Linked DNA regions of Homo sapiens. The protein of the gene in region 2 purifies or fractionates together with the protein of the main gene of each other region. This does not show direct contact. Each region holds a gene or a part of one and is shown on either strand. Other genes may lie near its edges.

Evidence for each region. Proteins that work in one complex are often made in the same cells at the same time.
Region 1: the proteins of C10orf88 (region 2) and GTSE1 purify together in Homo sapiens (affinity purification with mass spectrometry; one large-scale study listed by BioGRID and IntAct). This does not show direct contact.
Region 3: the proteins of C10orf88 (region 2) and DCAF6 purify together in Homo sapiens (co-immunoprecipitation; 3 studies listed by BioGRID and IntAct, with this or other methods). This does not show direct contact.
Region 4: the proteins of C10orf88 (region 2) and NUP155 purify together in Homo sapiens (affinity purification with mass spectrometry; one large-scale study listed by BioGRID and IntAct). This does not show direct contact.

Annotation. Positions count from the first base shown.
Region 1 is NC_000022.11:46,303,370-46,306,869, forward strand, and holds part of GTSE1 (G2 and S phase-expressed protein 1), read left to right. Parts: intron 1-3,500. UniProt on the Homo sapiens protein: May be involved in p53-induced cell cycle arrest in G2/M phase by interfering with microtubule rearrangements that are required to enter mitosis. Overexpression delays G2/M phase progression.
Region 2 is NC_000010.11:122,937,228-122,940,727, reverse strand, and holds part of C10orf88 (ATPase PAAT), read left to right. Parts: intron 1-2,568; coding exon 2,569-3,023; intron 3,024-3,500. UniProt on the Homo sapiens protein: ATPase that regulates mitochondrial ABC transporters ABCB7, ABCB8/MITOSUR and ABCB10. Regulates mitochondrial ferric concentration and heme biosynthesis and plays a role in the maintenance of mitochondrial homeostasis and cell survival.
Region 3 is NC_000001.11:168,044,683-168,048,182, forward strand, and holds part of DCAF6 (DDB1- and CUL4-associated factor 6), read left to right. Parts: intron 1-217; coding exon 218-545; intron 546-3,500. UniProt on the Homo sapiens protein: Ligand-dependent coactivator of nuclear receptors. Enhance transcriptional activity of the nuclear receptors NR3C1 and AR. May function as a substrate receptor for CUL4-DDB1 E3 ubiquitin-protein ligase complex.
Region 4 is NC_000005.10:37,361,107-37,364,606, reverse strand, and holds part of NUP155 (nuclear pore complex protein Nup155), read left to right. Parts: intron 1-222; coding exon 223-360; intron 361-622; coding exon 623-719; intron 720-3,500.

The sequences.
Region 1 (3,500 bases), on a different chromosome or scaffold from region 2:
AAAGCTGTTGATTGCTCTGTAATGATTTTGTCCTTAGCCATGTTCTTTTATCCTTTTACTACTTATAGTAGTTTCCAGTTGATCTTCTTGATTTGTTTCTCGTGTCTATAATCATGGCATCTGTGCAGTGTGATCATGTTACCTCCACATTCCTTCCTTTGCCTGACTGTGTTGCTTTATGTGTCCAGAACAGTGTTAAGAATTGTGCTTGGAGATGTCATTGCCACGTGCCTGGCTTTAATGGAATTGCTTCTGTGGTTTTTCATTAAGTCCGATACTGGGTTATGGGTTAATTTCCAAGTAAATGGTAGTCGTAGGTGTGCTATTCATGAGCATTTCTATGTGTTTGTCTTCTGGGCATGTAATAGAATTGTACTCCCTGTTCACTTGAAATTCAGTTGGCTCTGGTGACTCACTTGGCCAGTGAAATGGGAATGTTGTCGTGTGTGTCATTTCTGGGTGGAAATCTTCAAGAACCAGTGTGGAATTGGTTCTTTTCCTTCCTGCCATGGAGACGAGCGGTGTTCCTGATGGTGGAGGCTCCATCAGTTGGGGTCCTGGAGTGAGGAGGCCAGGGAGCAGGGCCCCAGCCTACCCCTCTGCAGACATATAGTTTGAGTGAGAAATATACCTTTGTGGTTTTTGGTTTGTTTTGAGACAGTGTCTCTTGCTCTATTGCCCAGGATGGAGTGCAGTGGCTTGATCATAGCTCACTGCAGCCGCAAGCTCCTGGGCTCAGCATCCTGAGTAGCTGGGACTACAGGTATATGGCACCATACCCCGCTCATTTTTTTTTTTCTTTTTGTAGAGCTGGGGTCTCGCTATGTTGCGAGGGCTGGCCTTGAACCCCTGGGCCTCAAGTGATCCTCCTTGGCCTCCCATAGTGCTGGGATTACAGGCACAGGCCACCATACCTGGCCTACCTTTGTTGTTTTAAGGGTTGTTACTTCAGCATGTTAGCCTATCCTAACTGGTAAGATCAATTTGTTCCTGTCTTTAGAAGGAATACTTCTGACGTTATCCCACTGAACCTAATGCTGGCTTTGGGTTGAGATGGGGATTTCCTTATATATCTATTACTTTTTATTAAGAGCCTCTAAAATCAAGAATGTATGTTGTATTTTATCATATGCCCGTTCAACATATGTGCAGACGATCATGGTTTTCTCTTTAGCTCTAGTAATAAAATGATTATATGAGTAGATTGTATGAAATGAAACCATCTCACAGTCATGAAATGCAGGGAGCTTGGTTGTGTTATGTTATTACCACTTTAATGTTTGCAGGATTCTTTTTGCTGGTATTCTTGTTAAAGAGTTTGATGTTAGGCCAGGTGTGGTAGCTCATACCTGTAATCCCAGCACTTTGGGAGGCCAAGGTAGGAGGAATGCTTGTTCCCAGCAGTTTGAGACCAGCCTGGGCAACATGAGGAGATCCCATCTCTACAAAAAATACAAATATTAGCCAGGGATGGTTGTGCGTGCCTGTAGTCCCAGCTACTCGGGAAGCCGAGACAGGAGGATCCCTCGAGTCCAGGAGTTCGAGGCTGCAGTGAGCTATGATTGTACCACTGTACTCCAGCCTGGGTGACAGAGCGAGACCCTGTCTCAAAAAAAGAAAAAGGATTATTATGCTGATGTAAGTAAGGCTGGTCTTTACTTTCTTTATTGATCACTTTCTAGGTTTTTTGGTAACATACTTACTTGCCTCGTGGAAGTAAGTTGGAAAGTTTTTTTTCTTTTAATCCTCTGGAGTGATGTAAATAGTATTGGAATTATTTGTTCTTTAATGTTTTGATACAATTATCCTATGAATCTAGTTGGGACGCTTTTTTGAAGAGGATAGCTCTTTAATAAATTTCACCAGTTATTTTATGATTATTGAAGTATTAAGATTTTCCCTGTCTTCTGGAGTCAGTTTTATAAATAAGTACATTTAGACAATTTAAATAAAAAATAGACTGGATGCGGTGGCTCACGCCTGTAATCCCAGCACTTTGGAAGGCCGAGATGGAGGGATCACGAGGTCAGGAGATCGAGACCATCCTGGCTAACATTGTGAAACCCCGTCTCTACTAGAAATACAAAAAATTAGCTGGGCGTGGTAGCACGTGCCTGTAATCCCAGCTACTCGGGAGGCTGAGGCAGGAAAATCGCTGGAACCTGGGAAGCAGAGGTTGTAGTGAGCCAAGATCACACCACTGCACTCCAGCCTGAGTGACAGAGTGAGACTCCATCTCAAAAAAATAAAAAGAATATACCAAGTGCAGTGGCTCACGCCTGTAATCCCAGCACTTTGGGAGGCTGAGGCAGGTGGAACACAAGGTCAGGAATTTGAGACCAGCCTGGCCAACATGGTGAAACCGCATCTCTACTAAAAATACGAAAATTAGCCCGGTGTGGTGGCGCGCGCCTGTAATCCCAGCTACTCAGGAGGCTGAGGCAGAAGAATCTCTTGAACCTGGGAGGCGGAGGTTGCAGTGAGCCAAGATCACCCCACTGCACTCCAGCCTGGGCAACAGAGTGAGACTCCATCTCAAAAAAAAAAGAATAAATAAAATTATATTTTCCTAGAAAATTATCTCTTTCAGCCAAGTTCTTAGGTTTATGTGCATGAAGTTGACAGATGTGCTTATGGATCTTTTCATTCCCTCTCTGTGTGGTTATTTCTCTTTTCTTTCTTTTGTGCATTTGTTCTGACTTCTCCTTGATTAGGTAATTAAGAATAATTGATTAATCAGGACCAAATTAGGATATTAGTATATTTTCAAATTTTATGATTTTTGAGAAGCATGCTGTGTTGTTATTTTTATTTATTTATTTATTTTTTTGAGACAGAGTCTCACTCAGTCACCCAGGCTGGAGTGCAGTGGCGCGATCTCTGCTCACTGCAAGCTCCGCCTCCCAGGTTCACGCCATTCTCCTGCCTCAGCCTCCCGAGTAGCTGGGACTACAGGCACCTGCCACCACGCCCGGCTAATTTTTTGCATTTTTTGTAGAGACAGGGTTTCACCATGTTAGCCAGGATGGTCTTGATCTCCTGACCTCGTGATCCGCCCGCCTCGGCCTCCCAAAGTGCTGGGATTACAGGCGTGAGCCATTGCGCCCAGCCTGTTTTGTTTTGTTTTCTGAGACAGAGTCTTGCTGTGTCACCCAGGCTGGAGTGCAGTGGCGCAATCTTGGTTCATTGCAACATCTACCTCCGAGGTTCAAGCAATTCTCCTGCCTCAGCCTCCCCAGTAGCTGGGATTACAGGTGCACACCACCACGCTCGGCTAATTTTTTTATTCTTTATTTTTGGTAGAGATGGGATTTTGCCACGTTGGCCAGGCTGATCTCGAACTCCTGACCACAAATCATCTGCCTGCCTCAGCCTCCCAAAGTGCTGGGATTACAGGTGTGAGCCACCTTGCCCGGCCTTCATTGTTTATTAAGATAAAAACATTTATGGGAGAGCTTTATAAGCTTTACAGTATTGAGCAAATACTGTATTTCAGTGCA
Region 2 (3,500 bases):
CACATAAAGAGAAATAAAGGATTAGCTACCAGGCACCTGAGATTTCTTCATTTCCTATAGTGGCATGTAGACATATCTGAATTTCTTGATATTTATTCCAAAGAGAAAAGATCATCTAAAGAGCTCTCATCTCAGAAAATGTGACCTTTTTTAAATTGTGGTAAGAATACTTAACATGAGATCTACCCTCTTAACAAATTTTTAAATGTACAATATGGTGTTGTTAACTATAGACACTGTTGTACAGAAGATCTCTAAAACAGATTCATCTTGTAAAGCTGTAACTTTATACCTATTGAATAGCAATTCATTTCTCCTTCCCCCCATCTCCTAGCAACCACCATTCTACTCTCTGTTTCTGAGTTTAACTATTTTAGATATGTCATGTTAATGGAATCATCCATTATTTATTCTTCTGTGCCTGGCTTATTTCACTTAGCATGTCTTCCAGATTGATCATATTGTCACATGACAAAATATCCTTCTTCTCAAAGGCTGAATGGTATTTCATTGTATGATATTCATTCAATGATATTTCATTTCATTTTCTTTATCAATACATCAGTCAATGGACATTTAGGTTGTTTCTGTATCTTGGCGGTTGTGAGTACTGCTGCAGTGAACATGGGAGTGCAGATAATCTTTTTGAGATCCCAGTTTCAGTTATTTTGGATATATGCCCAGAAGTGGGATTGTTAGATCATATGGTAGTTCTATTTTTAATTTTTTGAGGAGCCTCCATACTGTTTTTCATCACTGCTATACTATTTTACATTCTTAACCAATGACTAATTTTCATAATCAGTGAATTCTTATAAACAGAATATTATATGTCAGAAAGGAAAAATTTACATAGCAAATACCTTTACATTTAGATTTTTCTGTTTAAATGTTCTGCCTACTTAATGTTCACCCATACTTTTGACATTGACTGTAGTGTAAATATTATTACTCTTAATGTAGTTTTCCACTGTACATTTTGTTTTGAAATGTCATAGAGAAATAAATGGGCTTTCCTGTTATGACTGAGTAACTTTCTTTGAGCTTATGGGGAGTTGTCCAATGTTAACATTTTATAAATATAATTTTACATAATTCATCTTATTCCAGGAATATTTAAATATTCAAGTTTATTCAAAACTTGCATTTTATAAAACAAGATAAACTTACAGTAGGTTAACATTTCTCTATAAAGAGCACTTTTCCAAAGTGCAGTTTGGTAAAAAGTTAGATGGGGACATGACATTACAAATCTTCCCCCAGCTTCCCTGGCCCTTATTATTCTCCTTTCTCACTTTATTTTTCCCTAAAGTATTTATCACCATCTCCATTTCATGATACATTTTTTCCTTTCTTTTCTTTTCTTGACTTTTTTCTCTTCTTCCTTCTTCACTTCTTTTCTCTTTCCCTTACTTTCTCTTTTTCTTTTCTTTCCCCTTTTTCCTTCTTTTCTTTTGTAGTTTGTGTCTCCTTGCTCCCCTGTCATATAGGCTCTGTGAGGTCAGGGATTTTAATTTATTTTGTTCGCTGCTGTATTTCCAGTGCTTGAAACAATACTAGCACAGAGTAGATTCCTGGTAAATATTTGTTGAATAAATTAATGTTGTTCCGGCTTAGTCTAGTAATAACTTTTTAGAATATCTATAAGTATATGAACTGAGTTTCTTCAGCTAATTTACATATTGCTTTTTCAGTCTGTTTCACCAGCTGTTGAACAGCAATAAGTGTGGGATGATAACCCCTGATAAGAATCTATAGTAGACTTTTATGTTTTGAATTTAGAGTGGAGCCATATGCCTTAAGACTTAGGCTAGAGATATTTTCTTTTATCCAATGGAAAAATTAAAGAGCATAAAAGGGAGATACTGTAATCATCCCTTCAAGGTAAGCCAGAATCTTCTCAGGAAATAATACTGCATAACCAGTTGAATTGAGGCTGCAAAACAACTCTCATTATCCTGGAAATTCTTAGAGCAAACACAGCCAGAAGTAGCTAATTTCAGTCATTGAAAATGTCACAAATGTACCCATAGAGCATCTAACTTTAAATAGCATACCTATCTGTGTAGTTTCCAGGAAAAATTCATTGCAAAAGATATTACTAGATGAAAGTGAGTAACTTACCGTATTTTGACAGTTGGGAATGATATAATTGAATTTTAAGAAACTTACCGGTTCTTGTGACTCAGTTGAGAGTAGTACATTTTATTATCATAAAGAGACATTTGTAGTGGAAACATTAGTGTCAGTGCAGTTTGACTATTCATGCTAGTATTTATTTAATTTCTTTTGGGAAAAACTACAATGAAATGATTGAAAGTCATGACTGTGGAGTTAAGTGACCTGCGTTCATGTTCCAGTTCTGCCACTTACTGGCTGGTTACCTTGGCTAGGTACCTTTAGCCTTGGTCTCCTCAGCTTAATATTGGGATAGTATTAGTGGCCTACTTTATAAGGATGTTTTGAGGATTGGATGAAACAATGCACAGTGCCTGACTCATAGTAATTACTCCAAAAGTTAGCTGTCAGTGTTATTAATATTAACATTTACTTGTTTACCTTGTTTAGAATTGTATTCCCATTGGAGAGCAGCTTCAGTCGGTGTTGGGCAATTCTGGATACAAGCATATGATTGGACTACAATCCTCATCTACCTTAGGAACCTTAAACAAGTCGTCCTCCACACCTTTTCCTTTTAGAACTGGATTGACATCTGGGAACGTGACTGAAAACTTACAAACTTACATTGATAAAAGTACACAACTGCCTGGTGGAGAGAATTCTACCAAGCTTGATGAGTGTAAAGTTATGCCTCAAAACCATTCCTTTCTTGAAAATGATCTTAAAAATGCAATGGCCTCTTTCTTACCAAAGAAAGTAAGTGACAACTCAAATATACCCAACTCCGAGTTGCTGCCTTTTCTCCAGAATTTATGTAGTCAAGTTAATCATCTCCATGTGGGAAATAAGACCGAGTGTCAGGAAAACATCACCAAGCATGGTGAACGCATTCTTGGTGTTGGGTAAGTATTATTTTAAGACATACGAGTTTCGATTTGGTAGGTGGAAGAATCAGATGAAAGGAAACAGATTTGTCTCAATGAGTACTGCCTAAAATTTGTTTCCAGAGAAAATTTTAGCAACTTTTACATTTTACCATTAATACACTTAAAGGGGATAACTGCAGAGTAGAATGGATTACTTTGAAAGAAGTCCCTATAACTGGAGGTTTTGCACACTTCCCAGGCATTTTGTGGAAGGGTCACAAGTATTAGTTCACAGTTGGAATAGAAAGTGATTTGCATGAATGGAAAGGAGCTGTGGGAATTATAATCTTTATGTTGTTTTTATATATTTGTACTATTTTGTGCCTGGGTATGTTAAGCATGTCATTGTGACATTTTCCTTGAAGATTATGTTTGGTCTAGGCAAATTCCTGATTATTAAAAAACTATATTAGGATAATAATCACTTGTAGTTTACAAGCTATTATCCCCAGT
Region 3 (3,500 bases), on a different chromosome or scaffold from region 2:
CCTTTAGATAATTGCTTTGTATGGGAAAATAAAAAGCCTTAATCTATGTTAATCTCTCTATAGTTAGAGGCCATGTTCAAGTGTATTGTGGAAGTTTCCTCCCCTTATAGAGGAATTAGACATCATATTAGAATGTGTTTGTGAGCTCCTAAGTTAGGTTAAATAATTAGTATTGCCCACATTACCACCTGTTACATACAACTTTATTTTCTGACAGCACAATCAGATAAGTTCACAGCCAAGCCATTGGATTCCAACTCAGGAGAAAGAAATGACCTCAATCTTGATCGCTCTTGTGGGGTTCCAGAAGAATCTGCTTCATCTGAAAAAGCCAAGGAACCAGAAACTTCAGATCAGACTAGCACTGAGAGTGCTACCAATGAAAATAACACCAATCCTGAGCCTCAGTTCCAAACAGAAGCCACTGGGCCTTCAGCTCATGAAGAAACATCCACCAGGGACTCTGCTCTTCAGGACACAGATGACAGTGATGATGACCCAGTCCTGATCCCAGGTGCAAGGTATCGAGCAGGACCTGGTGATAGGTTGGTAAATTTTTAATTAACATGAACTGTAAAAAATGTATTTCACAAGGATTTGTTTGAAGTCATTGAAGGGAATCTCTCCATTTTTGACAGTTGCTTCCTCTAAGAGTGTCTCATTCATATAAACTTAAAGAAACTTTACAGTTTACTGTAAATGATTTTACGTATTATATTCTTTGAGCACTGTGCATTAATAGGGAAATAAAAAGTCTTCATTCTCCATATCTCTAGCACTGAGGCTTGCTTCTGAATTTACAGATCAAGAGAAAAGAATGTTAAGAATGACCCACAGGTTATTTATGAAGTCAAGGTTATACTTAGCTCTCAGATTATCTTGTAGATATCCAGGCCTTTATCAGTGTTGTTTTGGTTTTAATGTTAATTTTTTCTGCTTTTCTATTGACCCTGGATTAAGGTAGTGTGTTAGTAGTTCTGTTTTTGGGAACACTGTTTTTCTTTGATTTCTACTAAACTTAGTGACTGAATTTAGAAAATGAAAAATTATACCAAATAAATACCATAGCAGCAATAAAAAATTGAATTGCCAACATGTTTTTATAGTTTTTCTATATTTTATGTGATCACAAGGATATATTTTCTTTTGTGGGAGTTAAAATAAATTTTTAAAGTATACTGCATTTCATACTCATGGAAAACTATTTCTATTATTAGTGCTATCATATCTTATTGTAAGTTCTGTCCTCTTTCAGAGAACCTAGTTTTAATCTTAAAATCCTAGTTTACAAAGGAGTGAGATTCTATTTGAAATATTTCACATTTTATATGCTCAATATATTGCTGTTTATAAGATACCCTAAAGTATCTGTCAACTGAAAAATATAATGAAAGATTAATTTACCACTCATAGTCAAGAGCATGATGATGGGTTTGAATACTGGTTTCACCACTTACCAGCAGTGTTTTTTCATTCAAATTACTTAATGACTCTTAAAGATTCAGTTTCTTATCTATAAAATAGGGTTATGATTATCTAAAATTATTGTAAGAATTTTAAAAAAATCTATCAGTCAATCATGATGTGACCTGGCTCATGTTAATAGCACTAATTAAATGATAGCTGTATTAAACAATCAAGATAGTCTATGAGGCCACTTTAATTTTTAAAAGAATTACAGTAAGAATGACTCTAGGGATAAAGACTGAAAGAAGACAGGCAAAAATCCTGAAGAGGATAGCTTGCAGCTCAGGGGAACTGCCTTTTCTTAACTATGAAAGGGTATGTTTCTTTCTTTAGTCATATTTGGGAAATGTTTACTTTGCCATGGCACTTTTTTTGTAGATATGAAGCAAGAATTTCCCATGTTTATACTTAGAGATTAATCAAACATCTTCTCTTTACCTGTACACAGTAATCTTGAGCATTCTTAGTATATATTTTAGGCAAGTAAGACTTAGTTCTATTTCTTTCCATACCCAGAGGGAGTTCCTTAGAATGTCATTACCACTTAATTTATGCAGATGAGGTTAGCAAGCTTAGCACAATTTGAAAATCAAACTGATAATTTCCAAAATCAAACTGATAATTTCCAAAACCCAGGGTTGAGAGCTAGATTCTATAATTAAGCTTGTACATTTATGGCCTTCCATTTATATAAATGAGCTAATGTCTTATTTTTCTACATTTAAGTAGTAGAACATGATACGGAGGTCATAATTGAAAATTAAATTTAAGTGCCCAGTTTCTAGTAATGTTTTTAATGGATATTAGACACTTTGAGAAAGTCATAACTATTTAGCAGCTTCTATGCAGGCTAATTATAACACTTAATACCAAGCCTGCTTTATAGCTGAGGAAACTTAGGTGCTAAGCAAAGGGTTTTGTATATTCTAGAGCTAAGGAGTTTTGTTTTTTGAAACACAGTACTATAACATTAATGAGAAAGGAGGATTTGAGGGAGGGTGGGTCCTAGAGAATACAGAAACTGTAATCTTTCTATAGATCTTTATCATCTTCATAATACTTAGATGATTTATATGTTTTAGGGATTCTTTTAGCATTTAGATCTGTCACAAAGTTGGTTCCCAATAGCCTCATTGACCCAAGGAAACCCAGATGCTGAACTAGACTAGCAGAATCTTTTAGAAGAGAGATAATCAGTGACAACAAACAGCCTGGAACTGATCCCACTTCATGCATATACTCTTGAATTCATACTTTCATGGTTAAATCCAGATTTGAAACCACTCTGGGATCACATTTAGTTCCCTGCTTTTTAAAAATTAAATATTATTTAATATTCTGTACACTCATTTGAGTATTTAGCCTATGTTGGTCCTACATGGTATTTTGTTTTGTAAGATATAGTAGTAAACTTCCTGAAGAGTAACAGAAGAACGATAAAATTCTTATCCTTCAAGAAACTTAATTATTTATGAATAAGAGAGAATACCGAAGCCATTTATAGGAACATAGAAAACATTTAATATATGAAAGTAAATACAATTATATATATATGTGTGTGTGTGTATATATATATAAAAGATGTGTATACTGAGGTAATTAGAAAGTGATTAGAGTAACAATTACATTAATTTTCCTTTGAGATTTGCATTATTTTCTAGCTCTTTACCAAAAATTTGTAAATGGTGTAAATATTTCCTCTGACTTTTATCTAAATCGGTTATTATAATTCTTAACTTTTTTGGCACCATCCTGATTTAATCTTGAACAACTGTAAAAAAGTATACTTTTAATATTTCTGCACCTTTCTAAGGGCTCTTCATCATTGACACTCCTGCCAGTTTATCTTACTTCTCAATTTAGCTGACTTTTATTCTAAAGAGAGAAAGTTTAAGAGATTTTGCTTCTTAAGAACATGAAAAGAATCACTTACCAGCTTGTAATTAGTCCTATGATTTTGGAGAGTTTCTGTTTCCCAAGAGACTAAGGGTTGTGAAGCTCTGTTGTAACAATCATACCATTTGGTTCCTAGA
Region 4 (3,500 bases), on a different chromosome or scaffold from region 2:
AAGTTTTTTGAGATATGACTTTCCCTTTAGGCCTGAAACCAGTAACTGTTCCTACCTTCACAAGGGAATATTTCAGGACTACTTTGTGTTGGGTCAAAACTAGAATATTCTCTCTGTACCTTTGGAACCAACACACAACAATTTTTTTGTGGCACTCAATCCTTTTGTTTGCCCGGTTGATGAGCAGTACATTATTATAAATACTTCATTTTCTTTTTGTAGATAATCCCACCGTTTCTGGCATGTCAGATATGGATTATCCTTTGCAAGGACCTGGTTTGCTGTCCGTACCCAACCTTCCAGAGATCAGTTCCATCCGAAGAGTTCCTCTCCCACCTGAACTTGTTGAGCAGTTTGGACGTATCCTATTACTTTGTATTTATTTTAAAAATGTTAAAATTGGTATTTTTCATTCTTATAATTCTTGTTCTATGTTTAATTAATGTGTTATATATTCATTTAAGGGTTTTATTTAAAATTCGTTTAAGTATATGGGTTCCATGTTGTATTAAAGAGTGGACACATTGTGATTTTTTACGTAAATATTAAGTCAAAAGCTATTGAAACAAGTTAAAGAAGAATAAGATTCACCTCTGTCTGCCTTACATCCACACTACCTCAGATATGCAGTGTAATTGCATGATGGGTGTGTTCCCTCCTATCAGCAGAGCTTGGCTCACAATTGACAGTGATATATTCATGTGGAACTATGAGGATGGGTATGTATTTAAGGCTGGTTTGCTTTAAGGGTGATTGGAATTTATATAAACTTTACTGTAGCTAGTGTTCTCATTAGAAGCTGCTTGGTTTATCTTTCATTCATCTAGCCTTTGGGTCAGTGCTTCTCAGTATCAGTCATCTGGAGATGTTCAAATGTGCATTCTGTCTTAGTAGTCCTGAGTGAGGCTCAAGAGTCTGCATTTCTAACAAGCTGCCAACTGCTGCTGCTGGTTTAGGTGCCATTCTTGAGTGGCAGGAGCCCGGGTCCCAAGCTGTTAGCCCGTAGTAAAAATAGATGTTGGCAATTCATTGAGAGATGATTGGACATTTTTAAAGACTTCTGTTTTCCTTGCATTTCTATGGAGTAGGCATGTGATATTTATTTATTTTGTTGTCATTTTGTGAATTTGACCCGTGTGTAAATTATATGTATAGAAATGATTCTGAGTGAAAGCCTAAGGTACTTTTGCTTAAATACAGCATGTTGGTCTGGTGATCTCCCTGTTGACTTTTTAGAGATAGATTTTGTTTTACTTCCAGTTGTCCATTACATTATCCTTAGATGAGGTGTGGGATAAACATAGGAAAGCCCATATAATTAAGATGTTACTCTTGTTCCTGAGTAATTAATGATCTTTTTAGGAACACACGTGCATTAAAAAGACACTGTATCGGCCGAGCACGCTGACTCAAACGCCTATAATCCCAGCACTTTGGGAGGCTGAGGTGGGTGGATCACCTGAGGTCAGGAGTCCGAGACCAGCCTGGCCAACATGGAGAAACCCTGTCTCTACTAAAAATACAAAAATTAGCCAAGTGTGGTGGCACATGCCTGTAGTCCCAGCCACTCGGGAGCTGAGGCAGGAGAATTGCTTGAACCTGGGAGATGGAGGTTGCAGTGAGCTGAGATAGTGCCACTGCACTCCAGCCTGAGTGACAGAGCGAGACTCCATCTCAGAAACAACAACAACAAAACACTGTATTATTGAAACAAAATTGAAACTAAATGACAGCTTAACACCTATAGCTTAAACGAAACCATTTTTTTCTACTAGAAGTTTCGTAGCAATTTTTCATGTTGAAATGTAATAGTTGTAATAGCAGTGATGTATGATTGTGATTATTTTTCATGTACCCTGAATGTTCCCCACTTTGTTATGTTACCATAACATATTCATTTTTATACTAAATAATGAAACCTTTTTTGTTTAGGTATGTATCTTTTCAAGAGAAGTCATTGCAAAAATATTACAGAACAGATAAATGTGAGAATAATTGTTTTCTTTAAAATATGTTTTCGGCTGGGCATGGTGGCTCATGCCTGTAATCCCAGCACTTTAGGAGGCCAAGGCAGGCAGATCACCTGCAGTCGGGAGTTCGAGACCAGCCTGACCAACATGGAGAAAGCCCATCTCTACTAAAAATACAAAATTAGCCTGGCATGGTGGCACATGCCTGTAATCGCAGCTACTCGGGAGGCTGAGGCAGGAGAATCACTTGAACCTGGGAGGCGGAGGTTGTGGTGAGCCGAGATCGCGCCATTGCACTCCAGCCTGGGCAACAAGAGGGAAAACTCCATCTCAAAAAAAAAAAAACACTAATGAAATTTTTTACATTTCCATTAACATCCAACATATTTATTTAACACATACATATTGATCTTATGTATCTGACACTGTTGTTGTGGTAGGAACAGTACTGAATGAGATGAATGTAGTTCTGCCCTCATGGAACAAACAGTCCTACCTTACTGTGTGTCTTAGTCCGAGCTGCTAAAACAGAATACCATAGCCTGTGATCAACATGAATTTCTTTCTCATGGTTCTGGAAGCTGGAAGTCCAAGATCAAGGTCTGGTGAAAGCCCACTTCAATGTTCATAGATGGCTATCTTTTCACTCTGTCCTCACATGGCAGAGGGGTAGGGGAGTTCTTTGGGTCCTCTTTTATAAGGGCACTAATCCCATTCATGAGATATACCCTCATGACCTAATAACCTTTCAAAGACCCCACCTACAAATACTATCACATTAAGAGTTAGGATTTAATATGAATTTTAGGAGGACACAGATATTTGATCCATAGCAGTGTGTGTTCATTTAAAGAAAAATTATTTGAAGAATGTACTTATTTTAAAAAATCAAGGCACAAGGTCCACAAATTCAATTTTGTAAAATTTATACTTAGTTTAAATATTCAATTGGCTTTCTATTATAAATCCTAATTCCACCTGGATGATAAAAATGTAATCTTGGTCATTTCATTGTTCTCTAACCCCCAAATATCTCAGCATTGGATCGTAGTTCCAAGAGGCTGTGCCAGTTATCAAAGGGCCCTGTGGAATGGCATGATGTAAGAGGATGGGGAATCCTAGTCCGCATAAGTTGCCATTTAGCTATTTTGTTCCTGTGTGGATGGCCTTTTCAGGATGACTGGAAGCTTTCTTGAAAGTCTAGATCATATTTTTTCGTGGTATTTTTTCTGCTTCTTGTTCTCTGAGCTTCTTAGATCTTTAGTTTGATGTCTTCTATTATTTTTAGAATTTTTTTCAGCTGTTATCTTTATTTCTCTCTCTCTCTCTCCTTTTCTGTTCAGCCATTGTCTTTTTTTTTTTTTTTTTTTTGAGACAGAGTCTCGCTCTGTCGCCCAGGCTGGAGTGCAGTGGACTATCTTGGTTCACTGCAACCTCCACCTCCTGGGTTCAAGCACTTCTTGCCTCAGCCTCTGGAGTAGCTGGGACTACAGGTATGGGCCACCACACCTGGCTAATTTTTGTATTGTT